5 linked regions of the Homo sapiens genome follow. The protein of the gene in region 5 interacts with the protein of the main gene of each other region in a biochemical or structural test. Each region holds a gene or a part of one and is shown on either strand. Other genes may lie near its edges.

What was found.
Region 1: the proteins of USP33 (region 5) and PRKN form a complex in vitro, tested with the Homo sapiens proteins (one study listed by BioGRID).
Region 2: of the proteins of USP33 (region 5) and USP28, one has a biochemical effect on the other in vitro, tested with the Homo sapiens proteins (one large-scale study listed by BioGRID).
Region 3: the proteins of USP33 (region 5) and HIF1A interact in a biophysical measurement, tested with the Homo sapiens proteins (one large-scale study listed by IntAct).
Region 4: of the proteins of USP33 (region 5) and USP15, one has a biochemical effect on the other in vitro, tested with the Homo sapiens proteins (one large-scale study listed by BioGRID).

What each region holds. Positions count from the first base shown.
Region 1 is NC_000006.12:162,440,071-162,446,341, reverse strand, and holds part of PRKN (E3 ubiquitin-protein ligase parkin), read left to right. Parts: intron 1-2,868; coding exon 2,869-3,032; intron 3,033-6,271. UniProt on the Homo sapiens protein: Functions within a multiprotein E3 ubiquitin ligase complex, catalyzing the covalent attachment of ubiquitin moieties onto substrate proteins. Substrates include SYT11 and VDAC1.
Region 2 is NC_000011.10:113,868,032-113,874,302, forward strand, and holds part of USP28 (ubiquitin carboxyl-terminal hydrolase 28), read right to left. Parts: intron 1-6,271. UniProt on the Homo sapiens protein: Deubiquitinase involved in DNA damage response checkpoint and MYC proto-oncogene stability. Involved in DNA damage induced apoptosis by specifically deubiquitinating proteins of the DNA damage pathway such as CLSPN.
Region 3 is NC_000014.9:61,697,541-61,703,811, reverse strand, and holds part of HIF1A (hypoxia-inducible factor 1-alpha), read right to left. Parts: intron 6,101-6,271; exon of another isoform or gene 5,962-6,100; coding exon of another isoform or gene 5,858-5,961; intron 1-5,857.
Region 4 is NC_000012.12:62,263,404-62,269,674, reverse strand, and holds part of USP15 (ubiquitin carboxyl-terminal hydrolase 15), read right to left. Parts: intron 1-6,271. UniProt on the Homo sapiens protein: Hydrolase that removes conjugated ubiquitin from target proteins and regulates various pathways such as the TGF-beta receptor signaling, NF-kappa-B and RNF41/NRDP1-PRKN pathways.
Region 5 is NC_000001.11:77,723,187-77,728,852, forward strand, and holds part of USP33 (ubiquitin carboxyl-terminal hydrolase 33), read right to left. Parts: intron 5,527-5,666; coding exon 5,109-5,526; intron 2,577-5,108; coding exon 2,436-2,576; intron 258-2,435; coding exon 145-257; intron 1-144. UniProt on the Homo sapiens protein: Deubiquitinating enzyme involved in various processes such as centrosome duplication, cellular migration and beta-2 adrenergic receptor/ADRB2 recycling.

The sequences.
Region 1 (6,271 bases), on a different chromosome or scaffold from region 5:
TTTGGCACAAATTCCAGCCACTTCTTCCCACATTCCTTCCTATGGTGTTTTACTTTAAATCTATTCTCACTAGTAGAAAATGAAATTTAGAACTGGGGTCATATCTTTTGTCCCTATAGCCCCTAACTTGTCATGTGTCTTTTCTGATGAATTGGTTGTCTTATGGTCTCTGATCTGAGGATGCTGTGAAGATACCTCAGGGCTTCCAATACATTTTTATTTCTTCCCCTCTATTTTCAAAGGCGTCAAATGAAATTGACTTAAAAGTGTATCAAAAGCACCTTTTCCTCCGTAATTAGTATTTTTCATGAATTTTCTTTATTTGGAGCACTTTGTCACTGGTCGTCCTTCCTTTTTCTAAACACTTTCCGTGCTGGTCAGAGATGTCAGGCCTTTGTTCTTGTGGTGCCATCTGGACCACCTGCCCTCACTGGAGTGTCACGTCTGTTTTGGGGCCCATGTTGTTCATGGTTATTGTTCACGGTCCTTTGCTCTTAGCTCCTCACTGGAGCTTTTATTTATTTGTACTGCACACCCATATAGGGAATATCTGATTTATGTCATAAAGCCTTTTTATTGTTATCTTTTTAATCATGAGGGATAGAAATGTGGACTTTTTTTTTTTTTTTTTTTTTTTTTTTTTTTTTTTTTTAGACAAGGTCTCTGTCACCCAGGGTGACTGAGTGCAATGGCACAACCATAGCTCACTGAAACCTCTAATTCCTGGGCTTACACAGTCATCCCACCTCAGCCTCCAGAGTAGCTGGGACTGCAAGTGCACGCCACCACGCCCTGCTGATTGTTTAAAAAAATTTTTTGTAGAGATGGGGTCTCACTTTGTTGCCCAGGCTGGTCTTGAACTTCTGGGCTCAAGTCATCCTTGCCCCTTGGCCTCCCAAAGTGTTAGGATTACAGGCTTGAGCCATTGTGCCTGGCCTGGACTTTTCTTCTGAGATGGTTTCAGGAAGCCTATTTTAGTAGAAATGGAATGAGCTTTAGAGTTAGATTGAAATAAATTTGAAACCCAGTTCCATTAGAAAGTAATTAATGTCCTTAGAAAAGTGGGTCCCATTCCCTGTGCCTTCGTTTATTATTCTGTAAAATAAGGATAATAATAGGGACCTGACCAGATCACTGGGAGGCTTAGAAAAACCATATGAGAGCACAATGTCTGGCACATAGTAAGTGCCTGATTATTATTGGCATTGTAATGATTATTATAATTATGATGAGGTGGGTCATCTCACATTGGTATTGAGAAATAATTAGCTATAGTACTACATTTAAAGGAAACACAGCAGTAAATAAACAATAACACTTGCCCTTGAGGAGTTTGTTATCTTTTAAAGAAGGCAAAATGTATATCAAAAACAGCTAAATGTCCATTATTTTTAAATGTTACAAGACGATAGTTTTAAATACTATAAATATTATTTAATGAACCGAATAATATGGTCTGTGGTTTATTTATGTTTTCAAGATAAGGGAACTGAGACCTAAAGAGGGAGGTTAATAGATTGACCCCTAGCATCCTAAGCCAATTAAAGGAGTCTGTGGGGATTTTTCATAGGTCTTCCTAATGCTTCAGGATGTTCTTTTAACCCGTGTGCTATCCTGCTTCCATGAGGAATGTGGTGAATATTAAAAGACATATATAGTAAATGCCACTGGTGCCCTGAATAAGGAAGATCAGGCTTTTGCAGTAGCTGATAGCCAGAAGCTTCTTGGGGGAGGTCACATTTGAAGTGGGCCATGGAGGTAGGCAGGATTTCAATAGGAAGAGGAGAAGGAGGGAGGTCATGAATAAAAGCAAGAAGTTGTGTGCAGCAGTTTTTTGTGATTTTTTTTTTTCTGGGAGCATTTAGTTTAAAAGAGTACACATGGAGATTAATGAAGAAAATGCTGGAATGTAGGTTTGTGCTAGATGAAAGGGATCTTGGAGTCTTTCCTCACCAGCCGACAGTGTGAGACTTAAAGGATTTGAGTGGTGTGACATAGCTCTGTATTAATAAGGCTCATTTTGCAGAACTATGTAGGGCCTTTTGGAGGTGATGGCGTGGATCAAGACTCCAGTTGGGGGCTATTATGAGACTCTAGAAAAGATGTGATGAGAGCGTGACTTCAAGCAGTGAGAGAAAGAATGGAAAGTAAAGGGCAGTGAGAGACGCTGAAGAGGTGGGACAGCAGGTGCAGTGAGAAGACGGCATGCAGACAGACAGACTAGAGGATGCAGCCTGGGTCTCACGGGGAACAGTGGCTTCAATAAGACAAATGGTGTCACTAGTGTCTCCACCCCCTCCCTGCCAAAAAGAGGGCAAATAATTGTCTTCATAGACCCAGTGGAGCATTTTGGCCAGGACCACCCAAGTCTAGGGCTCTGAGCCATAGCCCCGAGTGGGTCTTCACTCTGGTCTATAGAGCAGCTTAGATTTTTTTCCATTGCTATACCTTGAGTGCTAACACATCGCCTCCTATTTTTATTAAGAGGGTCACTGTGGAGGGAGTGTGAGTGTGTACATGCTGTCAGAGCTGAGTCTTTTCAATAAACTCATGGGACTCTTTCAATTCCAATCAAGCAAGTGTCCTGCTCAAGTCTCTCTGTTTCCCAGGATGGATGTCAAAGGGAGAATGCAATTTTGGTTTGCAGGTCACTGACGAATATATGAAAGGGAAATCTCGTGGGTAACTAACTCTGTTTTTCCCAAATATTGCTCTATAGCATTAAGTTTTTTGTTGTAAGTGAAAGAAAATATATACCATTCACTGAAGGGCTGCGAGGGGTAAATCGGTTGAGAAATGTTGCTATCACCATTTAAGGGCTTCGAGTGATGCTCACTTTCTCTTCTCCCTTCCAATTTCCTTGGTCAGTGTTTGTCAGGTTCAACTCCAGCCATGGTTTCCCAGTGGAGGTCGATTCTGACACCAGCATCTTCCAGCTCAAGGAGGTGGTTGCTAAGCGACAGGGGGTTCCGGCTGACCAGTTGCGTGTGATTTTCGCAGGGAAGGAGCTGAGGAATGACTGGACTGTGCAGGTGAGTCTCCCTTGGCGGCCGTTCTTGGGATGCCGCCAGCTCCATTGCTCATGCCGCCTGCGCTGCCAATCTGACATTCATGCCTGAGATCTAATAGAATAAATAGTGCCTGGGGATTCCTTGAACTTTACTCCACACTGCTTCATTAATTCTGACCTTCTTAATTATGCATTAAAACAGCAAGCAGGAAAGATTGGAAGAACAACTGCGAGTGAGAAAGAGAGAGAGAAAGAACACACGAGCTAGGCTTAGTGAATAAATGTCTACTGACTACAGGAGCAGCAAGGCACAATTTCTGTGTCTGTTCAATTTCTACCTTACTTATTCCATTTGAATCTTAACGAAGAAGGATTCGAATAAATTGTTCCCAATCAGGCTGCTCAGTCCCTGCACTGTGAGGAATTTGTAACCCAATTGTGACCCCTGGAGGTTAGTGAGGGCTGCTGCTATGCTGCGCTAGAGGAGGTGTGGGCTCCGGGGCCCATTGGCAACTAGCTTTGGGCACTCCTTGGCCAGGACCAGAATCGCACAGTTCTGCAGCTGATGGGGAAGGAAGCCTGGAGCACAACAACAGTATACCTTTGCATGAATTTCTCCAAGGTTCAGTAACATTGTCCCTGGAAATAGGCCCCTGCAACGTAATAAGTGTGAACGATGCTCTCTTCTCTCCTGGCCCCAGCAGAGCTTCTGGCAGCCCACTGCTCCTAGCCCCATGAAAGCCCTACACACATGTCATTCGGATTGGTGATTTTTGTAGGAATTAGGGGGACTGGTGAGGTGACTGATAATACCACCATCACCTAGAACTAGAGACCCGTCCTTTGTTGGGGAAACTCGCAAATACAACTCAACATTTGTTGACGCTATTCTTTGTGAATGCAAGAAAGACGAAACGCTTTCTGGGAATGGTCCCTGTGACTGTGAAGGACCCTGCAGATGTATGTTCCCCTTTTCTTAACCAGCATCAATTAATTGCACTCAGGTTTACAGCTGTGTGGGTATCACTGCTCCGCGCAGGGGGGCTCCTGGGTCAGAGTACACAAAGTCCGTCCTTGTATCTGCATCCTTTCCCTGTCTCTTGTGGGTAACGATATTTATGGCTTTGTAAAATGCTCTCAGAATTTGGGTATACAAAGAAGCTACAGAAATGCAAATTGTTCCTGTCATTCTGCATTGCATCTCCTGCTGATGGTGTTGAGGCACATACTCGTTGTGCACAAACTGCTGGCCTCTGCTTTCAGGCAATTTGGTTTTATAAGGGAAGTGCATGTGCTAAAAAGGGTTTTGATTTTTTTTTTTTCTATTTCAGTCAACTAAAAAGATTTTCACTGTATCTGCCAACCTCTAAATCCAAGGATGTTTCCTTCACAAATAAATAATTTTAAAACAGCTCCTTGAATCAAAACATTTTATATTGCCAAAACCTTCAGGTTCTAAACTGCCATTTGTGCTGATTCATAAAACAATTAGCGATTTCATATGTAGTTAGACTAATTGCTTCAGATGATTGACTTTGCAAACATATATGCCTAAGACATGTGTTGATTTATGAGTCTATTTTGACAAACACTTCTTAAGCACTTCCAATGTCCTAGGCTTCTCAGGGGATCCAAAAGAGAGACCTAACTCAGCCCCTGTTTTCATGGAGACTGCTCTTTATTTATGAGCCCTAAAACCGAGAGAAATATTAGATTGAACCATATGGGATTGCCATTTTTACAGGTTCAACAATTTCATGTTGTTCAACCTAATAGCTATAATATAAGAATATGAAACATAACTGCCGTATCGCACCTGAAAATATTATGAAGTTTTAAAGGTGGAGAAAACACATCTGGTTGGAAGTCACCAGGAAGAACTTCTTGGATGAATTGAGTTGAGGTAGGATTCTGTAGATGGAGGAATAGGGGAATGAGCATAGAGAATGCTTGCCAAAAAGGATGGGTTCTTGTTCTTCTAGAACCTGAAGAGAGATGTTGAAGATTGGACAAAAAATAAAATATGGGCTATATTTCACATAACCTTGACTAACTTGGCATTGAAGTTTCATTGGTGGGGAACTAGAGAAAAATGTCATGCCATAGAAGGAAATGGGAAGTCTGAAGACCCGGTTTGGTTGGGGGAAGGATGCTGCATTGTTCCAACATGATGGGAGTTGATGCCAGCTGAGTACGTGTGTTTGGAGATGCCTAGCTGGCTGTTGAGAACTTGTGTCTGAGGACACTGAAAAAGAAAGGTTCATACTTATGGAACTTCTATTAAATCACAGTTAAATGATTTAGGTGCCGAGAAGTTGGCAAACTTTGTTCATAGAAGAGTTTCACTGTAAAGACTAGGAAGTTACACATGTAATTGCAAATTGATGGCTATGTTTTCTTTAAGTGTACAACTGGCAGAATTTTAGCATCCTAGATATTCTTGTATAATCTTAGAACATATGTTTACAACTATTTAGTCAATATCATTTAGTTACCCATTATCATTACAGGTGCTATATTTCACAGTATAAGCACAAAATATCTAATAATAAGTTGCTGCTGAGAAAAAGAAGATGGACCTTCCATATGAGCTACTTAATGCTTCCATTAATGAATGTTAAATATACACCTTGGTGTCCTGAAGAGAAGAAGAGATGGCTGGGGTGGTGTCTATGCTTGCTGGGTGTCTTCCTCCTGGTTTCGTATTCTTTATCATAGGTGATATGAACATATATATTAGCTTATCATGCAAAATGAGATATTGTGAGTATAAAAGAAGACCCTGTCAATAATTATTCCAGGACAAAATTATATGTTGGGAGTGTCCTAGGAAAACTGAGGCAATGGTCACCCCACATACTGAGCAGTATCTCTCACACTTAGTTTCACCTTCTTTGAGGAGGAAATTAGTTTTAGTGCCTCACCTCAGGTACTTTGGGGAACTATAGCTTGAGACCACAGTCTTATGAAATGTCATAATTTTAAAAAGCGAGTTTGTCTATTTAACTGGCAAAGGGTATTTGTAAGATTATAATAGAATTGATGTCACATCTAAAAAATTTTCATAGAATTTTCAGTTCTGGGAGAGCATATCCACAGGCCACTTAGAGAAGCACTGTTAGAGTATAGTTATTTTCATTACACACTCATCTGTTCAGTTTTGTTATTGGCAAGACTTTAAGAACTTTAAAAAATTAAAGGAAAATGGAAAAAATATAGACATTGAAAACGAATGATCTGGCACAGATTTTGCTTCTGGGA
Region 2 (6,271 bases), on a different chromosome or scaffold from region 5:
ACGTAGAAAGCCTAGACGCTGGAAATAGTGCCATGCAGCCCAGACTCCAGCACACATCAGCCTCCTGGCAAATCTCAATCTTCCTCAGCATCAGTTTCCAGAATGGAAAATGAAGTACACCAAAAGCTTTGACAGCCCTGTATGACTATCAAAGGAAGTACTGCAAATAAATTGTTAGCAAAATGAAGAAATGCAATAGAAATGAAAAATACTGGGACTTGCCTGTTCAACTAAACTCCTCTAGAGTTTACAGTAAAAATACTGATATCCTGTGTTATAGTTTTGGTTTTATCACTTACTTGCTGTGTCACTTTGCAAATTCTACTTCCTGCTCATACTAAATTTTATTTCATAGAGTGCCTATGAGGGTTCAATGAAAAGTTATTAAAATTATTAAAGTGCTACATAGTCAAGTGGTAAGTCAGAAACTTTGGTTTTAGAAAGGCTTGTACTAAAGTCGGAGAAATGTTATGCTTCAAGTCAGAATGGCTTGAAGTCACAGCTCTGCTACTTATAATTCAATCATGGTCATAAGCTGCATTTCTCATCTGTAAGATAGAAGCAAACAGACTTCAGTTTAAAATCTCATACGAATAAAGAAAAAAAGAGATAGGTACCATGGTTCACGCCTGTAATCCCAAAACTTTGGGAGGCTCAGGCGGGAGGATCACTGGAGCGCGGGAGTTCAAAACCAGCCTGGGCAACATAAAGAGACCCCCCATCTCTACAAAAACTAAAAATATTAGCTAGGCATGGTGGCACATGTCTGTAGTTCCAGCTACTCTGTAGGCTGAGGTAGGAGAATTGCTTGGGCCCAGGAGGTTGAGGCTGCAGTGAGCCATGATAGAGCCACTGCACTACTCCAGCCTAGGTGACAGAGTAAGACCATGTCTCAAAAAAAAAAAAAAAAGACAAAAGAAAGAAAAGGAATAAATAAAATAAATCTCATATGAGGCCCTTATAAGGCATACTAACATCTGAGGTCAGGCACGGTGGCTCATGCCTGTAATCCCAGCACTTTTGGAGGCTGAGGCAGGATGACTTGGTTCATAAGTTTGAGACCAGCCTGGGCAACACAGAGAGACCCCATTGCTAAAAAAACTTTTAAAATTAACCACAGGCTGGGTTCGGTGGCTCACGCCTATAATCCCAGCACTTTGGGAGGCCAAGGCAGACGGATCACCGGAGGTCAGGTGTTCAAGACCAGCCTGGCCAACATGGTGAAACCCCGTCTCTACTAAAAATACAAAAATTAGGCGTGGTGGCATGTGCCTGTAATCCCAGCTACTTGGGAGGCAGAGGCAGAAGAATCAATAGAACCCGGAAGGCGGGGGTTACAGTGAGCTGATCTCACGCCACTGTACTCCATCCTGGGCAACAGACTGCGGTCCGTCTCAAAAAATAAAATAAAACAAAAGTAGCCAGGTGTGGTGGTGCATACCTGTGGTCCCAGCTACTCAAGTGTCTGAGGATTGCTTGGGTCTGGGTGGTCAAGGCTGCAGTGAGCCTTGACGGTGTCACCACACTCCAGCTTGGGTGACAGAGTGAAACCCTATCTCAAAAAACAAACAAGACATCTCAGTTTCCTCATCAGTAATAGGGTAATAGTTCACACCTTGCTGGGTTTTTGTAAATAAAAATGTATGGAAAAGTGCTTAGGGTGGTACATAGCATATGGCAGACACGAGTAATACAAGTGTACATTCCCATGCCTAGTATAACAACCCTGGGAAAATAAGTATGAAGCAAACGTTTATAGCCAAGGAGGTTGATATTCAAGCAGACCTGTTCAAAAAGCACTGGGAAACAGAGTATAGAAGTCATTTGCAACTCAGGATTAGAAATGTAGATTTGGAGCCAGGTGTTCACGCCTGTAATCCCAGCACTTTGGGAGGCTGAGGTGGGCAGATCACCTGGGGTCAGGAGTTCAAGACCAACCTGACAAACATGGAGAAACCCTGTCTCTACTAAAAATACAAAATTAGCTGGGCATGGTGGTGCATGCCTGTAATCCCAGCCACTCGGGAGGCTGAGGCAGGAGAATCACTTGAACCCAGGAGGCGGAGGATGCAGTGAGCCAAGATCGTGCCAATGCACTCCACCCTGGGCAACAAGAGCGAAACTCCGTCTCAAAAAACAAAACAAGAAAAAAGTAACAGCAAAAAAGTGGTAATGAGGGATCATAAAAGCATAAAATAATAAAAGTATGAGGGGGCCAGGTGTGGTGGCTCATGCCTGTAATCCCAACACTTTGGGAGGCCAAGGCAGGAGGACTGCTTGAGCCCAGGAGTTCAAGACCAGCCTGGGCAACATAGCAAGACCTCGTCTCTATAAAAAATTAAAAAAACAGCCAAGTGCGGTGATGCACGCCTGTGGTCCCAGCTACTCAGGAGGCTGAGGTGGGAGGATCGCTTGAGCCTAGGAGGTCAAGGCCAAAGTGAGCTATAATCACATCGCTGCACCCCAGTCTGGGTGACAGAGGGAGAGATCCTGCCTTGGCAAAGTAGGCTGCTGAGCAGATTCTGATTACATAAAACCACTCACTGCCTTTCAACCTAACCTGCTGCTGCCTAGTCAGTCCCTCTGCAGGCCTCTGAACAATCAGCCATTTGCTGGAGCCCAGACTGGTCCACACGGCCATCTCATTATTTGGCTTTTGCAGAAGCTGTTATTGCCACCTTAAGCTCTGTAGCAGAATCTGGGAACCAACCTTCCTCAATCTCCTGTCAGCTAAGAGTTAGTCTTGCTCAAGTCTGTCTTTTCCAAGTTTTGTATATTGAGTCTGAATACATTGTCACTGGAAAAATGTTTTAGAAATGAAACAGGTGGGGTTAGAAACTTTGTTCCAAAAGCAAACAAGAGGAGGAAGGTGGAGACAACAGCTGGACTGGGCAATAGACACTTTTGTTGTTGTTATTTGGTTTCAAGATAGAGGACAAGTGCACGGTAAAATGGAAAATGCAAATTCAAAATGTAATATGCAAATGAATCACCCAAGAATCTTGTCAAAAGGCAGAAACTGATTGAATAGGTCTAGAGTGGGGGTACAGGCAGTGGTATGCTGATTGGCAGTGTATGCTTGTTTCCTTGGTATAAATATTCCCACCTTGGCACAGTTATCAACACGAGGTCATTGAACACAGAGCTGGAAAGAGATGTACAAAATCAGCTGGAGAGGCAGAGCAAGCTGGCTCTAGCACACTCAACTTTCTGCATGTCTAAATCCTAGGGGATGTGAATGCTGCTGGTCTGTGGACCATAATGTGAGTAGCAAGGGAGAAGACAGTGAAGGTGTCTGGGGGTTAGACTAGGACTAAGGAGAAGGGACATAATAGAAAGAGAAGAGAGACATCATCTAGATCAGAGTTTGTCAAGCTCAGCACTATTTTATACAATTTACACATAACTCTGTTTAGAGGGGCTTACTCCTGTACACTGCAGGATGTTTAGCAGCATTCCCGGCTTCTACGCACTACATTCCAGTAGCATCCTCCCTCCAGAGTCACAATCAAAGTCTCCAGACATTGCCAAATGCTTCCTAGATTACAAAATCTCTCCCTAGTAAAAACCATTAATCTAGGTTTATCTCTAAGAAATGAAAGGGGGAAAAAGGAAGGGAACCTTTTCCACTGAAATAAGAGAAAAGAGATGAGATGGCGTAGGGAGAGGGGGACAAAACAGAAGGCAGGGAGCTCTTTTTAGACATCAGCGAGCTCAGTCAAGTAGAAAAGAAGATTATCTATTTAGAAAGACTGTAGGGAGGACTGGAAGTTTAAAACATTAGGAGAGTTCTAGAAAAGGCATTATAAGAGTAGTGGAAAGTCTGTGATCCAGGGCAATGGGCCCATCAACTATGAGATAGGACCAGGGGCGCCTTGGGCTCTTGGGGTCAGAACTGCCTAGATACAATTCCAACTGTACCATATCCTCACTGGGTGACCTTGGACGAATTACTTAACAAGTATAAGCCTTCTCATAGAAACTTCATGGAGTTGTGTAAGTACTGAGAGAATGCTATGTTAAGTTCTGAGCACCGAGTCTGGCACATAGTGCATGCTCAATTAGCATTAGCTATTACTATTACCAGCATTATTTTCCTTGTTAAGTACTTGCTTCATTTTACTATTGATTTAATTTCTTTGATGAAACAGAACACATGGAGAGATCTCGCCTGGTAAGATGCTATTTGCCAGTAAGTCTTAAAAATACTGTTTGCAGACCGAGGCGGGCGGATCATGAGGTCAGGAGATCGAGACCATCCTGGCGAACACTGTGAAACCCCGTCTCTACTAAAAATACAGAAACATCAGCCGGGCGTGGTGGTGGGCACCTGTAGTCCCAGCTACTCAGGAGGCTGAGGCTGGAGAATGGCATGAACCCGGGGGGCGGAGCTTGCAGTGAGCAGAGATCGCGCCACTGCACTTCAGCCTGGGCAACAGAGCGAGACTCCGTCTCAAAAAAAAAAAAAAATACTGTTTGCATTTGGGGGCAGAGGGGCATGAGAGTTGTGGAACCAATCACTGACTTACTGATGTTTTAAAAATCAGTTAATGAGACAAAAGGAAACGAAAGGTCAATAAATCAAGAGAAAGCAAAAAGGGCATTAAATTTTCACTGAAACTGGCAGGTTTTTATAAGGCTTCAGCTGACATAAAGAATGTGTGATGTGAACCCTCAGTACAGCTGCCAAGAATGACAGGTTTATAAGAACCAAACTGACTTCAAGTTGTTTCTCCTGTAATAACAGTAAATTTTGCTGCTATCGAAGTCAAGAATTGATTAAAATACAGGAATCTGTCACTATGTAACCTCTTTAGATATTCGAATACCAGTTTGCAGTCTAGAGGATTTAGTGAAATCATAAAGTGTCTACTCTCAGATTCGAGTCCATACTGATAGCATATTTCAAGAGTACTACATATTTCTCGCACTAAAATTCTTGGGAGGCCATAAAGGGTTTTGTCTGTCCTGTGTACAACTGACCAATAAGGGAAGGGAAGCAGTCTAGGCTTTAAATAGCTTCTGAGTGTCAGGGAAGGATAGCTCTCCTCAACTAGAACAATGAAATATCCTTTAAGGGAAAGGTAGAATGCCTCAGAGAGTTCAAAATAAAAGAATCCATTCTAACATGAAACTTACCAAGATGAGGAAGAAGTTATTAAAATCTTTCCTGTAAGATCAAAAGGTACTTTTCCTGTAAGTTCCTTCAACCTATCCTGGTAACTTGAAGCATTTTATTAGCAAAAATAAAAGGGGCAAACATTATCAAGCATTCCAAGCTTATCAGCTTTCCGTATAGGGCAAATCACTGGGAAGAACAGTAAATGTCATCACTCTGCAGGTGGCCAGGAATCGGAGTACTCCAGCCAGCCACAGCCACTGGAGTTCCAAGCCTTCCCAAAATAGCTATGACTTACATACAAATGCTCATCAAGTAGCTCACACACAGTCTCAAACGGAGAATGCTGAAATAGGGTCACTACTCAAACTGCGGCAGAGGTAAATGAAGATGCCACTGATTAATAGGCACATGGTCTTAAATGACTGAGCCACGACAAATTTAAATATGACTTCTCTCTCCCTTAAAATAGTCTCTTCTCTAAATCAATATGATAGTCTCCAAACTAAAATTTTCCCATGTTTTTAAATCACTGTGCTAAAAACAAATAGAACTGACCTCTGAAGCCAGAGAAAAATCTTGACACATTTCAATAGGCACTTGTGAACATCTAACAATATTTCCATTAGAAGTCAGTGCATGATACTTTCGTTTCGGAGCCCAGGACCTGGAAGTATCTTTTTCTACATGAGTTTTAAAAAGCGCATCCAGGCTGGGCGCCCTGGTTCACGCCTGTAATCCCAGCACTTTGGGAGGCCGAGGCGGGCGGATCATGAGGTCAAGAGACCGAGACCATCCTGGCCAACACAGTGAAATCCCATCTCTACTAAAAATACAAAAATTAGCTGGGCGTGGTGGCACGCGCCTGTAGTCCCAGCTACTCGGGAGGCTGAGGCAGGAGAATCGCTTGAACCCGGGAGACGGAAGTTGCAGTGAGCCGAGATCGCGCCACTGCACCCCAGCCTGGGCGACAAAGTGAGACTCCGTCTGGAAAAAAAAAAAAAAAAAAAGTGCGTCCAGACTGGGCGCGGTGGCTCACGCCTGTAATCCCAGCACTCTGGAAGGCCGAGGCGGGCGAATCACCTTAAGTCGGGAGTTTGAGACCAGCCTGACCAATATGGTGAAACCCCGACTCTACTAAAAATACAAAAA
Region 3 (6,271 bases), on a different chromosome or scaffold from region 5:
CAAGAGTTCTGTGTATAGTAAGATAATATTCTACAAGAAGACCATCAAATATGCTACAATAAGACATATTTGACTCATGTAATCAGGGAACTCCATTCACATGGCCAAGTAGGGCAAAACGTTTTCTTCTAGGAAACTGATATATAGACACTAGAAGAGAGAGGGAGTTTTTTTTACTTTTTTTTTTTTTATATTACAAACTGTATGGATGCAGGTATGGGGATGCTAGCCGTCCTCTTCCACACCATACAGACAGCCTGTCAGTGGCAGAGTAAGGCCAGCATGCAAATAGAGCAAAGGTATACAAGCCAAGTAATATCAAGACAAAAGTCAGGGATTATTACACTCTGAGATCATTTGAGACTCTAGATTTGTCTCTTAAACCAAAATTAGATTGTGTTAGCCAATGACTACATTTTCCCCTCTTAAACTAGATTGAGTTGTATTTTGCTACTTGCAATAAGAAGAATCCTAATATACTTATCAAATTGCCAGTGTTCCAAATTTAAAACTTTAATGATGATAAAGTTCAAGAAAATGACACTCTAAAATACAACTAGGTCAAACTTTCTAGAAGATAAACAGGCAATTACATTGAAAGCTTTAAAATGGATACTTTTTGACCCTGTAATTCTACTTCTTCTAATTTATTATTAAGAAAGAACCATGAGGCCGGGCATGGTGGCTCACGCCTGTAATCTCAGCACTTTTCTCACTTTTTTGAGAATAGGTTTGATAAAAAGGCAGTAATGGTAAAACAGACTATATCTGAAATCTGGAGAGTATTAAGAGCCATATATTATGTTAAGTACCCAACATTAATATTATCTAATTTAACCATCACCACAAGCCTACAAAATTCTGATACTCTTCCTCACTATTTAGATGGGAAAAAATGTAGATGTAAATTTTTTAAAAGCAGGTTAAAAACAGTACTCAGTCCCTAATCCTACAGTTATTAACATACAGATGTAACACAGAATTGAGAAATAGTAGACAATGGTCTCTACATAGTGAAAAAGCAGGTGATTTTTATTTCTTTGTGCACCTGTGTAGTTTTTAAATTTTTTCCTCCAAAATTTTAAAATTTCATTAACATTAAAATAGTTTAGCCAGATCAAATGATTGTAAACACACTCAGGGAACTCCTATTTAAATGGTATTCTATTATAAAGCAAAGAGAATAATCAATGCTCTTCTATTATAAAGCAAAGAAAATAAACCCCAACCTTACTATAAAGTAATAGAATTTAAATATCTATATCAAAAAAAGTCAAAGGAGATTCTTTAACTTTCTTCTTACCAATCAGTGAATCTCAGACAGGGAACTAAAGAATTAAAACATTCTTTTTAATTTTTTTTTTTTTTTTTTGGAGACAGCATCTCACACTGTCATCAGGCTGGAGTGCAGTGGCGCGATCTTGGCTCACTGCAACCTCTGCTTCCCAGGTTCAAGCGATTCTCCTGCCTCAGCCTCCGAGTAGCTGGGATTACAGGCATGTGCCACCACATCCTGCTATTTTTTTTTTTTTTTTTTTGTATTTTTAGTAGAGACGGGGTTTCTCCAAGTTGGTCAGGCTTGTCTTGAACTCCTGACCTCAGGTGATTCACCTGCCCCGGCCTCCCAAAATGGTGGGATTACAGGCAGGAGCCACCGTGCCGGGCCGACAATATTTCTAAAGAAACCTTTTAAAAACCTGCATTCTCTTTGTTCATCCAATTATTCAATCATTGTCTCATTTGTTAATTCAAATACTTATTAAGAGCTCACTGTGTACACCACGTACCAGTATTCACACCACAGATTTCTTTTTTAATTTTTTTGAAACACAGTCTTGCTCTGTCACCCAGGCTGGAGTGCAATGGGGCGATCTTGGCTCACCGCAACCTCCGCCTCCCAGGTTCAAGCAATTCTCCTGCCTCAGCCTCCTAAGTAGCTGGGATTACAGGCACCCGCCACCACGCCTGGCTAATTTTGGTATTTTTAGTAGAGATGGGGTTTCACCATGTTGGCCAGGCTGGTCTCGAACTCCTGACCTCAGGTGATCCACCCACCTCGGCATCCCAAAGTACTGGGATTACAAGCATGAGCCACCGCGCCCAGCCCACAAATTTCAAATTCAGCCTACTTGGGATTTGGTCCACTGAAACATATCCAGTTTTATAATGGAAAGGGGGAGGGTAGAAATCATTTTAAAGAAATTTGCTTAGCATCTGAATTTACAAGACTCTTAAGAACAGAAACGTATCCCAACCCTCAAAGACTTCAACTTTCGCCTTTAAACCTTATTTTTAACCATAGTATTTTTCAGCTGGAAAAACAAATCCTCCCAAACTACTTGGAAAAAAAAAAGGGGGAAACACGGGGGACCTGTCCTTAATGAGTGAAAATTGCAATATTAAATACTAGACACTTTTAAATTAATTTGCCTAAATATATTGTGACTTTTCAAACAAGTGAAGAACTACATACAGTAAACTATGTTCCATCACTACATTTTCCCATTTACAAGATAATAAATTTTCAAAATCATATGTTGAAATAATCTTTATGGTTAAAACTGTAACCGGTTAAGGTGAAATTTTAAAATAAAGAAACACTCATAAATAACAGTTGAGATCACCAGAACAGCTAAAAGCTAACATCTTGGGAACAGTTTTTAATAAAAATACATTATTTCAATTATTGTTTTAAATCTTAGAGAACAAATTTCCTAATTAAATTGGGCTTTATCAACAATAGAACAGGTGTACACTATTTTACCCAAAAAGTGTTTCTGTGAAAAAGTACTGGCATAACAAATCTAAGTCACTAGAAAAATTGAATTCTCCTTTTAGAGGTACTTACTCTCCTTTCAGTTAAAGCTTCCACTGGCAAACTGTAGTTAGCTTTCAGCTGGTTAATTATCCACAAACAAGCCCTTAAAAACAATCACTTCAACATATTAGATGGCTACCACTTTGCCACATTAGATGGCTAAGAAAGAAAGAGAAGAGAAGGAAGGAAAGAAAGAAAACAAGTGTTTAGAAGGATGTGGAGAAATAGGAACCCTTGTGCACTGTTGGTGGGAATGTAAACTGGTGCAACTGCTATAGAAAACAATATGGTGGTTCCTTGAAAATTAAAAAGGGTTACCATATGATCCAGCATCCCTCTTCTGGATATGTATCCAAAAAAAGTGAAAGCTTCAAAGAGAGATTTGCAGACTCATGTTCAGAGCAGCACAATAACCAAGATGTGGAAGCAACCCAAGTGTCCGTTGCTGGATGAATGGAGAAACAAAATATGGAACATATAATGGAATATTGCTCAGACTCAAAAAGGAAGGAAATTCTGACACATGCTACAACATGGATGAACCTTGAGGACATTACACAAAGTGAAATAAGCCCATCACAAAAATATTAAAACCCTATAATTCTATTTATATGAGGCATCTAGAGTAGTTAAATTTGCAGAAACAGAAAGTAAAATGGTGGTTGCCAGAGGCTGAGGAGAGGGGGAAATTGGGAGTTGTTTAATGGGTAAGATTTCAGCTTTGCAAGATGAAAAAGTTCTGGAAGTTAGTGGCACAATGTGAATATACTTAACACTACTGAACAGTACTTAGAAATGGTTAAGATGGTAAATTTTAGGTTAATGTTTTTGAACTACGATTTTAAAAAACAATCAAAAGCTATAAGAAAAAAGCCATGAGGTAATCACATTTTTGTTTTTATGAAACAAAAATTTTAAATTTTGTTTTAAAAATTCAGGTTTTAGATACTAGATTTCTCTAAAGGGATCATGTCTGGCAAATAAATAAGGGTTTATAAATTTCTACTGCAGAAAACATGAACATTAATACTCAACGCATATACAAAACAGTTAATTCTTGATGTGTCAAGAGACCAAGAGATATAATTATTTTTAAAATTCCAAAGCCTATAGTTAATTTAAACAATCTGACCATATTTTTACCAAAAATACTGAGCAACAAGAAGCTTGGCTTGTCTTAGTTTCAAATTCTCTTTCTAACCTTCCAGAGTTAAGCAGAAAACACATACACACACTGGGTAAAATCCACCCACTGGATAACTAGTCACAAAGTTTAAAAAATCAATTTCTTGATTGGAAACTCATCCAACATCACATTTAAATTTAGATTTTTTTATCCTGGTTAAGAAACAGACTTATGTTAATCTTAGATAAAGGGATACAGTATTTTAAGTATCTAAATTTAAAAAATTATATACTAAGAGAAGGCATCTATGAACACACAATTTAACCCAAATCTTTAACATCCATGCACATCAATTTTTATTTCACCACCAAACATAATAAACTGAGTTCTTCAGAAAAAAAAAAAAAATCAGTCAAGAGACTAAATAATCCCCCTCAGCTTTCTATACACCACTCTTGACATACAAGAATAGAATGTAACCACAAAATCTAAACCCTGAGCCGTGACACCATTAGAGTCACAGACAATGGCGTTAAAAGTAAAGACAATGGAAGTTAACAGGTAGAAAAGTTGACATTCTCCAAACTGCACAAGGTGCTCTGCAGTGGACCGTAGGAATGAACTCCAATACTTTCTCAGTCTAAAATAACTCGATAGTTCAGTAAATACACACGTGTGGAAGAGTGCATAGACTTCATACAAATTGAGCCACAAAACAGACCAGTAAGACAAGCTTGAAGTCTTGCCTTCAGATGGAACCCAATGGTCTTAACTCTGGAGAAACTCATAAGCAAAGGACAGTTTTTCTACCACGTAGCTGCTTTACTGAGAATATTTTATCAACTCATTATCTTTTACAAAGGTTAATTTTTATAAAATTGTCTAAACTTTGGCATCAAGACGAAAAATGTTTTAACTTACTGCCAGTACTAAGAATGCAGTGTCTTGCACATATCTTGCTTAAATGAACAGTAAGACTAGAATACTGTGTATGTTTGACTCTAGAGTCCAGAGTAAACTCAGTATTCTATTTGGGGAGAAAACACAGGGGTGAGCAATTGTGAAGCAGGAGGCCTCCACTAGAGTAGAGAGCAGATCAGATGCTCAAGAAAAATAACTGATACTAGGTGCCAATATAACCCAAGGATGTACTCTTTTGCCCATTGTAACAGGAAAAAAACGCTTTTCAAGCTCTGGATCCAATGTTAGTCTTTTCACTTTCAGGAGATAGAAAAGATGCATGAAGACACAGAAAAGAAACTAAAGGAAACAGCTGGAAGGACTAGCAAAAAAGAGTTTTAAGAGTTGTGGAAGTTTAAACAAGAATTTTAACAGGTAACATCTATTTTCAAGTACACAGTGTCATCAAGACTCCTGCAATGGGCTAAGTGCTTCACAAGCATTATCTCATTTAACCTTTACAATAACTGCTCAGATGGCTGCTATTCTTATCATCATTTCAAAAGGAGGAAAGAGGCTCAGAGGCATTCAGTAACTTGCTCAAGCTCACAAGTGAAGGGCTGGGACCCTTAACTCAGAGGTATCTGCCTCTAGATCCTATGCTCTTAACCACCATATGCTGCTTCCTCAAACAAAAGGACAATCAAAATAGAATCATAAGGAGAAAAGTTTGCTAATAAATGAGAGAGCTTCTTGACTTTTAATGGCCAAAGTTAATGAAGGAAATTAAGGAATATCTATTCTCAGAAATTTTACTTTAATGATTCAGTAATTATTTGTTTTGGAAAACTCTGAAGGAGTCTGGCCTGAAGCCTGAAACAGAATCATTACTCTCTTGACATTCCCTTAAAAATCTAAAAATCAAAATGCACGTGCTATTAAATAAGTTCAGCCCCTATAACTAGGAACAACATGAAATGTCCTGCGTTAAATCTACAGTATCATAACCATACCCATTTTCTATTCTGATTTCTTCCAATTCTTCAGGTTTTGAGTTTCCTAGACCTTCTTTTAAAAAGACAAATTTGTTTTCCAAACTCCGACATTGGGAGCTCATTTAAAATGAAAAAAAAAATTGCTTGAAGAAAATCTCCGTCCCTCAACCTCTCAGTTATCTTTCAAAAAACTGTAAATTAGTTAGAAAAGGTCATCTATTATAAACAGCATCTAAAAGTGCTGAGTAACCACCACTTATTAAGTGTTTAACTTAATTTTTCAGTTATATCAAGAACTTCTATACTAAGAAATATGAATCCATCCAATCCAAGGTTGCCAAGTTTTCAAATGAGAAAATTTTGAAAGTAACAGATGGGCTGAGGAAAATCTAAGAGCTTATTTAGAATTGGGGCTGATGAACAGTAGCTAAT
Region 4 (6,271 bases), on a different chromosome or scaffold from region 5:
CTAAGGTGGGAGGAGTGCTTGAGGCCAGGAGTTCAAGACCAGCCTGGGCAACACAGCAAGATCCTCATTTCTACAAAAAAATAAAAATAAAAAATAGACACAGTGGTGCTTGCCTGTAGTCCTAGCTAATTGGGAGGATGAGGCAGTGGAATTGCTTGAGCCCAGGAGATCAAGGGCAATGTGAGCCAATATTGGGCTACTGCATTTCAGTCTGGGTGACAGAGCCAGACCCTGTCTCTAAAAACAAAAAAGATCATAATATTGTATTTTTACTCTACCTTTTCTATGTTTAGATATATATATATACACACACACACATATATATATTTATACACACACACATATATATATACTTACCATTGTATTAGAATTGACTACAGTATGCACTACAGTAACATGTTGTACAGGTTTTTTTTGCCTAGGAGCAATAGGCAATACATCCTAGGTATGTAGTAGGCAATCCCATCTAGATTTGTGTAAGTACCCCCTTAAGATGTTCACACAACGACAAAATTGCCTAACCATACATTTCTCAGAAGTTATCCTTGTCATTAAGTGACTCATGACTGTATCATTCAGCAGTAAAAATAAACATTGATATATGCTATAACATGCATGAACCTAGAAAACATGTATGCTAAGTAAAAGAAGCAAGATGCAAAAATCGCACATACTATACGATTCCATTTATATAAAATATCCAGAATAGGCAAATATATAAAGACAGAAAATAGATTAGTAGCTGCCTAGAACAGAGGAGTTTGGGAGAGAAATGGGAGGTGACTATTAATGGGTATGAGGTTCCTTTTTGGATTCCAAAATTGATTATGGTCATGGCTGCACAACTCTTTCGAGTATACTAAAACCCAGTGAACTGTCCACTTTAAGTGGGCAAATTGTAAGGTATGTGAATAGCATCACAATAAAGCTGTTTTATATATACATATATATTTTAAAAGCAAAGAATGGAGGGGCCACAAATTTGGATGAGATTAGAGGTGGTTTTAGAGACTGACTTTGAACTAGGTTTTGAAATGAAAGTCAGTAATTTTTAAGAAGTATCTGAAACAACAGAAATGGGGCATAAAGGCCCCAAAAGCAGGAAAAAGCAAATAATTTGCAGGAAATGGGAGACACTATCTGTATCAAAACAGAGATATGTTAATTAGAAATGAGACTGCTGAGACTACAAGGCTAAAACAAGAAGACTCACAAAATTCTAGAGGCTCTTGATATTAATAACAAATGAAAATGTGTTTAACAAGTATTACAAAGCTGTCATTTCTTGATTTTAATACTTTCAAGTATTTGTCTTTCAAAAAGTTGCTTCCATAATCTGGGTATGGCTCTATCACACATAGGCAGGCAGTACACTTAGAATTTAAAATGCAAGCTTTAAGTTAGACCTCCTGCTCTACCACTGACTAAGTGTTATGACCATATACATTTAACTATCCCAGTTTCTGTACTGGTAAAATGAGAATACTACCATGTATTTCATATATGTAATATATTTGGAATAAATATATTACATTATATATGGAACCTGTATCTAGAGAACTTTTAAAATGCTCTTAACATAGTAAATGAGTAATAAGTTATTGTAAACCATAGCCACAACTATGTGGTACATATAAATACTTAGCTACATCTCTCCTGAGAATTAAAAAGTTCTTCAGCTTGAAATCCATTCAAATGTATGAATATAAATTTCCCATCTTTTTATCAAAGGCAAATCTCTTGACTAACCTGTTAAACTTTGTTAAGCTGTAAAAACATATGGGTAAATAACAGAAATCAATCCAGATTACCAGGTGTTTTCTACCTGGAACAAGGAACTTGATGCTCTTTTCAGTTAAGTAACTTTGTCTCTAAATGTTCTCAGGTCTTGATTTAACTGGCTCTAAACTTAGAATACCCTGGCCTCAGAGCCACCCTTGAACTTCTTTGTGAGATCTTTGACTTCCTTCACAAAGAAGTCCTTGCTACTGGTACTTCTGCTAAATGATTTTCTCTTATGGTGGGGAATTACCACGCTAATATCTGGGTCTTCTCAAAACTAAAGGGAGAATGGAAGGGACAGTTAGCATTCTTAGTTCTCCATTCCTTGGAGGAAAAAAAGGCATCATTACTCTTTTCTTTTTGGAGAGCTATAAGGAAACCATGTAGAATCTTAGTGATGGAAGTAGTAAAGGCAGTCTAGACATAATCAAATGCAGGTTAATCCTACAGGGGTTTTCTGTTTTATATTATAATTGGAACTTATTTCCTTCTTTGTAAGGAGCCATTTTTGACCCTTCCCTCAAATAATTTTAATCTGTATCCAAAACTGAGGCTACTTACTAGGCTTATGCTAGATTTCTTGAATAGTGACTTTTGTGTAAACTGGGTGATAAAATCTAAAGGATCTACATTCCCCTGTTTAAAGGATAAATGGGAGAACGAGTCTGGCGAAGTGGCTTCAGAGGAATGAATATGAGACACAGAATGTGAATTACAGTGGTAAGTGAGGAAATTAAAAGAAACAAGCTAGACTGACATTACTCAGGGAAGAAAAAAAGTATTTAGTAATTGTTGAAAAATTCTATACAAGGACTAAGAAAAAAGAGAAATTCCCATGGTTTAATGAAATATTGTTTGAATTACATTCGAGTAGTGACAGCATAAAACCATTTTTAATACTAAGGATCTATTCTTAGTATTAGATAGTATCTAGTACTTTAAATCTTTATAAACCAGGTATTTAAACCAGCTCTGAAATCATCAAAGATAAAATGAAGTGTAATAAGAGCATGTACTTTAAAGGCTATGTAAGTGTAAAGCATTTAAAATAGTGGCTGCGACAGACTAAGCATTTAATAAATGTCCGCTGGTAGTAAACTATGAGCAAGCAAATTAATTTCTCTCAGATTCCTCATCTATAAGTCATATAAATATATATATTTTGGTCCTTCTTTTGAGGATCAAATCTCGTAATGCACATAATCAACCTTTATCAGTTGTTCTCTATCTTCCCCTTATTTCCCTACCAATATGCCCAATGGTTTCAATTTACTTTTGTCAATAATCATGACTTATTAATGAAGTGATTTTCAGTGAAAAAAAGAAGAATCACTCTAAACTCACATCATAAGATAAATTCAAGACTAAGATAGCAAAATTGACTGTTTTATTATCATTGTATCTTCCACTATCTTAATTTAAATGTTCTTTCACTTCAAAAATTCTTTAAGAGTTATCTCTAGGGAAAAAATCAGTTGGTGAACATAATAATGCATTCATATTTGCATTTTCTGTGCTGAGTGGTTCATATGGATTTAAGTCCAAGAAGAAAGCCGTATGTATTTGTGGCTTATAGTAAACCAATACCATACTTTTAAAATATGGACCAAGTACCGAAACAAAATAGCCTACAAGATCTTACTATATGCTTCATGGGTTATTTCTGTAAAACTATATGTGAAGGGGCCATATCATCTCTAATAAGAGCTTATGATTATTGATAGACAATTAAAATTCAAAAGCTCAATAGTAAATGACCTCAAATTTTTTTGTCTGAATGTACTTGTGGATCAAAATGACATTTGCTCTGTACATTCAATTATTCACCTATCAATCTTTAAGCATGTTTTAATATCCAGAAGCAAGGTGTTAAGATTTCCTACATGTTCTATCATATCTAAACTGAACAGTCACAAGAGGCAAATGGTAGAATTCTGCTACTAAATATAAAATAGACTTCCTTTAAAAAGAAAAATAGGTTCTTTTCTTTTTAAAGTGAATCTACTTTTTAAAAAATGAATCTTTAAAATAAGAGACAGAGGCTGGGCATAGGGGTTCACACCTGTAATCCCAGCTATTAATACTTGCGAGGCTGAAGTCAGAGGATCATTTGAGGTCAGGAGTTTCAAACCAGTCTAGGCAACACAGTAAGATCCCGTCTCCACAAAAACTTTAAAAATTAGCTGGGTGTGGTGGCGCACACCTGTAGTTCCAGCTATTTCAGAGGCTGAGGCAGGAAAATTGCTTGAGCCAAGGAGTTTGAAGCTACAGTGAGCTATGACTATGCCACTACACTCCAGCCTGGGTGATGAAGCGAGACTCTGTCTCTAGAAAAAATTTTTTTAAATAAAATCAGAGGCAATGTGGTACAGTGCTTTAAGGGCACAAACCAAAGACCTAAACTACTTGGGTTCAAATCCCAGCTATACCACTATGTGAAAACCTTTTTGAGCCTATGATTCCTATTTTGTCAAATGTGAATAACACCGATTCCCAGAATTGTGGTAATATGGTGATGAGTAAATAAGTCAATATGCATTTATAACAGTACCTGGCACATAGTGTTTTTAAATGTAATATTACAGGTCATGGCCTGACAAACTGATTTTATCTTGTTACACTTACGTAGAAGCAAAATTGTTAACTGTCACAAAACCATTTTGCAAAAAGGTCATTTAATGCCTTATATGTGCTAACAGGAAAATGGTATAATTTAGGAAAAAAAGCCTTAATTTCACAAAACAGATAAACGAAATCATTGACTAGCTCTGGACCTTCCTGGACTATTAGGGTACATTAACCCTGGACTCACTAACAGAAGTCATTTAAAAACTTACGAAAAAGGCTTAAATTAAGAAAAGTTGCTTTCCTAGATTTTTAAGCATCTAAGATGTGAAACATGCCTTAAGGTCACTATCTCTGTCCTTGTTTTCACCAATTTACCAAGACTGAAGAAGTTTTTCCTTTTAGTTTCATTTCCTATAAATGATGTAGTATATACCCTACTCTGGTCGTAAACACCCTGGCACTACTGAAACTAATTTTAAAAGTAATAGTAATATAAAAATTTCTTTAAGTATACACTAAATATTTTGAAATTCATGTTGAGTAATAGTGTTCCTTTTCATTATTAAGGGATTTGTGAGTATAAGGTTATTTTCTTTTAGTTTCAAAGTTGCACGAACATAAGGGATCAAATAAAATTAAGCCTCAAAGATTTCTAAGTAAAAGTCGGAATGGACAGAAAGCTCTAAAAACTGAAATCAATGTCTCTTGTCTAAAACTTCACTGATCAGATTCTTTGGCAATTATTGAAATGAAAATGTCACAGAGATTTTAAATGACTTCACACACAAATTACTTACTCTGTAAAGTTACCTACTACAGTTATTAGGGTTTATACAAAAATGGCATGCAATGTTTTGCTAAACTGCAAAAGTTAACTACACATTACCACTTAACATAATCACACATAAAAATTACTGAAAATGATTGGCAGATGAATAACATTTAATAAAAATGGTGGAAACGAAGCAGTGCTTTGGATGATTTGTGGTTATGTTTTACTTACTCATAATAGGCCCATTTCTTTAAAAATTTCCAGGCCAGAAATTTTGCAGGTGGTTCACACCTGTAATCCCGGCCCTCTGGGAGGCCAAGGTAGGCAGATCACTTGAGGCCAGGAGTTCGAGACCAACCCGGGTAACATGGGGAAACCCTGTCTCTACTAAAAATAAAAAATTAGCTGGGCGTGGTGGCATGTGCCTGCAGGCCCAGCTACTGCGGAGGCTGAGGTGGGAGGATCACTTGAACCCTGGAGGTGGTTGCGGTGAGCCGAGACCACGCACTGTACTCTAGCCTGGGCGACACAGCGAGACTCTGTTTCAAAAACTTTTTTTCCAAAGAGAGTATTTTATAACCCATAATTTTCTTTGTAACTCATTAACTACCATTCCTTAAATATGTTCCTAAAATACTCATATGTACCTTAAGCAAATTATCTTTTTGTCTCATCAGAAGAAACCACCATGTATCTGAAAATTGTTTTTAATTCATCCTAAGCGATACAATTCTAGTTCATTTATCTCTTTCCTATAGTTCCTAAACTCTAAATTTTGTTCGTGTTTTTCTGATCTCTTGTTGAAATTGAAACACAGATCAACAAATATCATTTTGAGACTGCTTTATTCCTTATACAAATCAGTGCTACCTTCTTCTTGCTTTTTAAAAAGGTATTACTCTCGTATTAATTTTGATTTACTTCTCAATATAAAGTCTAGAACTAAATACATCATAAAGTATGTTTCTCTTCATCTCACACTTGTGTAACTTATTTTCATCTCTAGAAAATCAGTTTTTAGATAAAAATCATTCACTGCTTACAAATAAAGAGAAACTGTAGTACTTACACAGAATGAAATAAATCTTTATACTTGCCTAGGTATGGAAGTTAGTTACCCGAGTTACCATGAGACAGTCATTATCTGCA
Region 5 (5,666 bases):
AATTTGTGTTGATGTAAACACAATAAATGCATGTATGCTCATCAATAGCAAAGAGAAGGAATTAAACTTTTCACATCATCTTGTCACATTTTTAAAAATCATTTGACACGAATTTTCTGTGTATTCTAATACCCTCATACTCACCCTGTCACAAGTCAGACACTGCACTGAACTAATGATTGTTCCATCAAATATGTCTGAAATAACACTTCTGTATTTCTTGTGCTGTTTTTTTCTCTTTGGAGATGCAGACTGAGCTAGGATTGAAAAACATTAAAAAAAAATCAAAGCAGCTCCTTTAACATTTTTCTCTGGAATCTTTTTTTGTCTTGTCAATCTTACTTGTATATGATCTCTAGAATCCTTAAACTGTAAAAATTACTGTGTTGAAAATTTTCAAAATACTCTTCAAAAGAGCATAAGTATTAAAAAAATAAAAGAAACTAAGCAGACAAGGCTTAAGATATTTGTTGTTTTTTTTTGTTTTTTTGTTTTGAGGTGGAGTCTCGCACTGTTGCCCACACTGGAGTGCAGTGGTGCGATCTCGGCTCACTGCCAAGTTCTGCCTCCCGGGTTCATGCCATTCTCCTACCTTAGCCTCCCAAGTAGCTGGGACTACAGGCGCCCACCACCACGCCCAGCTATTTTTTTGTATTTTTAGTAGAGACAGGGTTTCACCATGTTAGCCAGGATAGTCTCGATCTCCTGACCTCATGATCCACCCACTTCAGCCTCCCAAAGTACTGAGATTACAGGCGTGAGCCACCGCACCCAGCCTGTTTTTTTTTTTAAAGTATAAATGATCCTTGGCCACCATAAATGTACATATGAGAAAATGAACAAAATTCTAAATTAGCACAAAACCACAAATGCTTCATCACTGGGATGTTTACTTAAATGTTTTACAAGTCAAAAGAAGAGGGGAAGAGGTTAGAAAGTGAGGGAAAGATGATGAAAGTCATCATCAAGCTAAAGATGAAATAGAAGGGGTTCGGTCTCCCTATCCTGACTTGAGAGCAATTCTGTTTTCACTTATTTGTTTTTGTCTCCAGGTAAGGCTTTATTTGAAGAAAAGATTCTATTATTTAAAGTTTTTAAGAGTTCTTTATATATTTCTGGATACATGTCCTTTGCTAGCTATATGATTTATAAATACATCCAACCTTATCTTTCCATTCTCTGAATGTCCTTTGTCAACAAAAATCTTTAATTTTTTTCTTTAATGGATCATGCTTTTAATGTCTTTAAGAACTCTTTGTCTAACCCAAGGCCATGAAGACTTTCTCCTATGTTTTCTTCTAAGAAAACATAATACTGGAACTCCCATATATACCTGGAAGGAATACTAAATGGTAGACACTCTGGTAAAAAGTCTGGCAGTTTAATACAACTATAAGCATTAAACAAACATAAAACCCAGTAACCCCACTTCTAGGTATTTGTCCTAGACAAATGAAAAAATGTTCTTACAAAAACCTATACATAAATTTTAGAGCAACATTATTCATAATTGCCAAAAATTGGAAACAATTCAAAAGTCCACCAGTAGGTAAATAAACAGTGGTATACCCATAAAAAATGAGATATTAGGCCGGGCATGGTGGCTCATGCCTGTAATTCTAACACTTTGGGAGGCAGAGGTGGGGAGATCACAAGGTCAGGAGTTCGAGACCAGCATGGCCCATCTCTACTAAAAATACAAAAAATTAGCCAGGCATGGTGGCGTGCACCTGTAGTCCCAGCTACTCGGGAGGCTGAGGCAGGAGAACTGCTTGAACCTGGCAGGCAGAGGTTGCAGTGGGCCAAGATTGCACCACTGTACTCCAGCCTGGGCGACAGTGAGACTCCATCTCAAAACAAAACAAAAAAAAAGAAACATTACTTGGTAGTAAAAGGAACAAACTATTCAGACACGCAGTAACATATCTGAATTTCAAATGCATTATCCTGAGAGGCAAACCTGTTTCAAAAGACTACATATGAAAAGATTTAAAAAAATCAAAAGACTACATACTATATGATTTCATTTATATGACATTCTAGGAAAAGGCAAAACAATAAGAAAAGAGGATCAAGGGTGCCAGAACATAGGAATAGAGAAATGATCTGATTACAAAGTAGTACTATGCAGGAATTCTTTGGGGTGTTAGAGCTGTTCTGTATTCTGTTTGTGGTGGTGGTAACAAGAATCTATGCTGCAAGTGTTAAAATTCATAAAGCTCTATACAAGAAAAAGTGAATTCAACTGTATGTAAAATTTTAAAAGCAGAGTACCAACACACAAAATTTTTAATCATGTCTATGTAAAATTATGCTATCAATTTTAAAAGATCAAATCATATTTCATAATTAACACTTTAAATTATCAAGTACCAAAACCATCATTTTAAACTAAGACCCAAAGCAAAAGAGACTGAATAAGAGAAACGTTTTACCTTTTTTGTGTGGTGGTGCCAATCCTGGCCACAAATTGCCTGATTTAGGAGGGCTTGCCGATAAACGTGGATTAACACCTTCATTTGATGGAAGGATCTGTGGTGTAGACAGGTCATTCGAATGGACATCAGTGATATATTCTGTAAGATTTAAAATTTGCATTATTACCTTAAATAGTAAAATTATTCTAACTGTCCAATAATGTTAAAGGTTTCTTAATTTGATATTTTGAACACAATCATATTAACAAATGTCAAGTTAAATACTTAACAAAGTGCTTACTAAGCAAAATAACAGTAATCTTCTACCCAGAAATCCAACTAATTTTTGTTTACTTGTTTTTTTGAGACAGAGTCTCCCTCTGTCCCCCAGGCTGCAGTGCAGAGGTGCGATCTCAGCTCACTGCAACCTCCGCATCCTGGATTCAAGCGATTCTTCTGCCTCAGCCTCCCAAGTAGCTGAGATTACAGGCATGTGCCACCAGGCCCACCTCATTTTTGTATTTTTAGTAGAGATGGGGTTTCACCATTTTGGCCAGGCTGGTCTCAAAGTCCTGGCCTCAAGTGATCCACCCACTTTGGCCTCCCAAAGTGTTGGGATTATAGGCATGAACCACCGTGCCCAATCCCAACTAATGTTTATAACACACGACTATTACAGGCAGTTTAGGAAGTGAGCAGTGGAAATACAAAGCCAAAGAGGATCTTGTTTGTCCAAATATAGCATTAAAAAAAAAAAAAGAGGCTAGGCTGGGTGGCTAACGCCTACAATCCCAACACTGGGAGGCCAAGGTGGGAAGACTGCTTGAGCCCAGGAGTTCAAGACCAACTGCGCAACATCATGAGACCCCCATCTCTACAAAAAAATCTAAAAATTAGCTGGGCATGGTGGTGTACACCTGTAGTGCTGGCTACTCAAGAGGCTGAGGTGGGAGGATCACTTGAGCCCAGGAGGTTGAGGCTGTGGTGAGATGTGATCATGCCACTGCACTCCAGCCTGGGTGACAGAATGAGACCCTGTTTCAGGAAAAAAAAAAAAAAAGATATTCAGGACAGGTTTTTAGAAGTTCTAAAACCATGTGAAAGAAAAATCGATTATTCTCCCAAACTAACATAATAATCAAAATCAAGAAATGTAGGTATAAAGTAATCATAAGTTATTTTATCTTACTATAATAAAAAATACACCACTTCATCAGGAAAGAATCTTTTTTTAGAATTAAATTATAAGATGAATCAAGAAAATATAAGAGCTACCTTGATTGTTTGCTTTGGATTCCTAGTGCCTAACATATTCCAGGGCAAGGGAATGTGCTCAGTAACTATTTGAGTGAAGAAAAGAGAATTGTTCGTAAGAGATCTGGAAAGGGGATGTACTCAGAAATTTTTCCAGATAATGCAAAATCATTTTTCACACAGGCATTTCTCAATATTTCAATCATGACTAAATCAGACTGCATAATATTGGGAGTGAAAAAACAACTCACTCTAGGACTTTCTGAAGGGAATAAAGTTAATGAGATTTAGATGGGGAGTTGGCAATTTTTTCCTCTAACGGACCAGAGATGAAGTGTTTTAGGTTTGTGTGCCTTACAGACTTCGCCAGATTTTTTTCATCAAGCCCTTAAAACACCTAAAAGCTCAGACTCCTGATTTAGGTCATCCCCTTGTTACTATGTGTAAGAACAAACCTGTTACAGAGCAATCAAAGATGAGTATGTCCCTAATCAGGCTTAACTGGGCTTTTGACAAGAAAAGCCTGGACAGCAGTCAAAGCTAAGTCTTTCAATACTGATACCTGACATATTTATTCACTAACAACTTCTACACAAGATCAGTATAATTAAGGAGCCTAACACTCCTAGTCTTCCCGATTAGAAAGCATCTGTGCACTTTACCCAAGTGAACCACAAGTCTTCCTATAGTTAATAATATTTTCAAGAAGAAATTTTGGATTCATTCAAATACCTAAATAAATTGCTTAGTTACTCTCACTCTTCAGTAATTACAGAAAATAAACTTTTTTACATTACATGTCTGCCACTTATTTTAAGATCACATAATTTGAACCTCTAATGGCCCAATTTTGTGTGCTTTGGAAAACTACATACCACATTTTAAGCCAAGATAAGTTAACTCTTGAAGAGATAAATTACAAAGCAATTCAACTTTCATTTGGCCACATGCTCTTTCTCAAAGGAACACTGACTAGTATCATGGCATAATCTATCACAGCAGGGCTCACTATAGTTAATTCAACTTCTACACTAAAACACATCTGATGTGACTCCAATGACAACAATCTAAATCTACTAGTGTATATAATTAGAAAATTGCAATTTGGGTTATTTGCTTTTTTCCAGGATCGCAACATAATTTGCTTAAAATAAAAGAGAAAATTCTGGGGAGCCCAATTTTTTAGATTACTGCATGACTACACAAAAGACATCTGATGAAATGTTTACTTCAAAAGGAGGATTAATTTCTTATATAATTAAATGACCCAAAAAATTCCTTTTATCCTCGGGTTCTATAATTTTATGACTAATACTCACATGCAAATACTGCTAAACTATAATTCTAATTAGAAATACCCAAAGTAACAATTATTTAAACACCCATGTCTACAAATGAAATACTATCATTTTCATGAACAAACTACTAAATTGTCACCTGAAGCTCTGCTGTGTATTTGCACTTTGACAGTTTCCTGGTTGTTTAAGTCGACTGTTTCAGATATAGAGTCTCTATCTTTATCAAATTCGCCTTCAGAATTTACTTTATTAATCTTATTGCACATCTTCTCTTTTTGCCAATCCTTTGACATTTCTGAATTGTTTTCATCATCCTGAATTAACATTGTTGTTTCATTATTATCTTCAGAAAAGCATCTAGAGCCATTTTCATTTTCTGCTCTATCACTGTTGCTACAAGATTCACAAGACTGAAAATCTACATCCGACTGGCTCTTGTCTTCTTCCATTGTCTCCTCAGTGGTTATGGTTTGCGGATCTTCTTCTACTTCCATGACTTGCTCTTTCAATTCTTCATGAAGCAAATCCATTAAACATCGAAGGAATTCTTGAGCATCCTAATATATCAGCAACATAATGTTAACCACTTCATTACATGTGTATATAGAAACGTAAGGGAAAATATACAAAATGTCATTACAAACTTATATATGAAGGTACAGCACTATATTGAGCAAATACCAGTTTGGAGAGCATA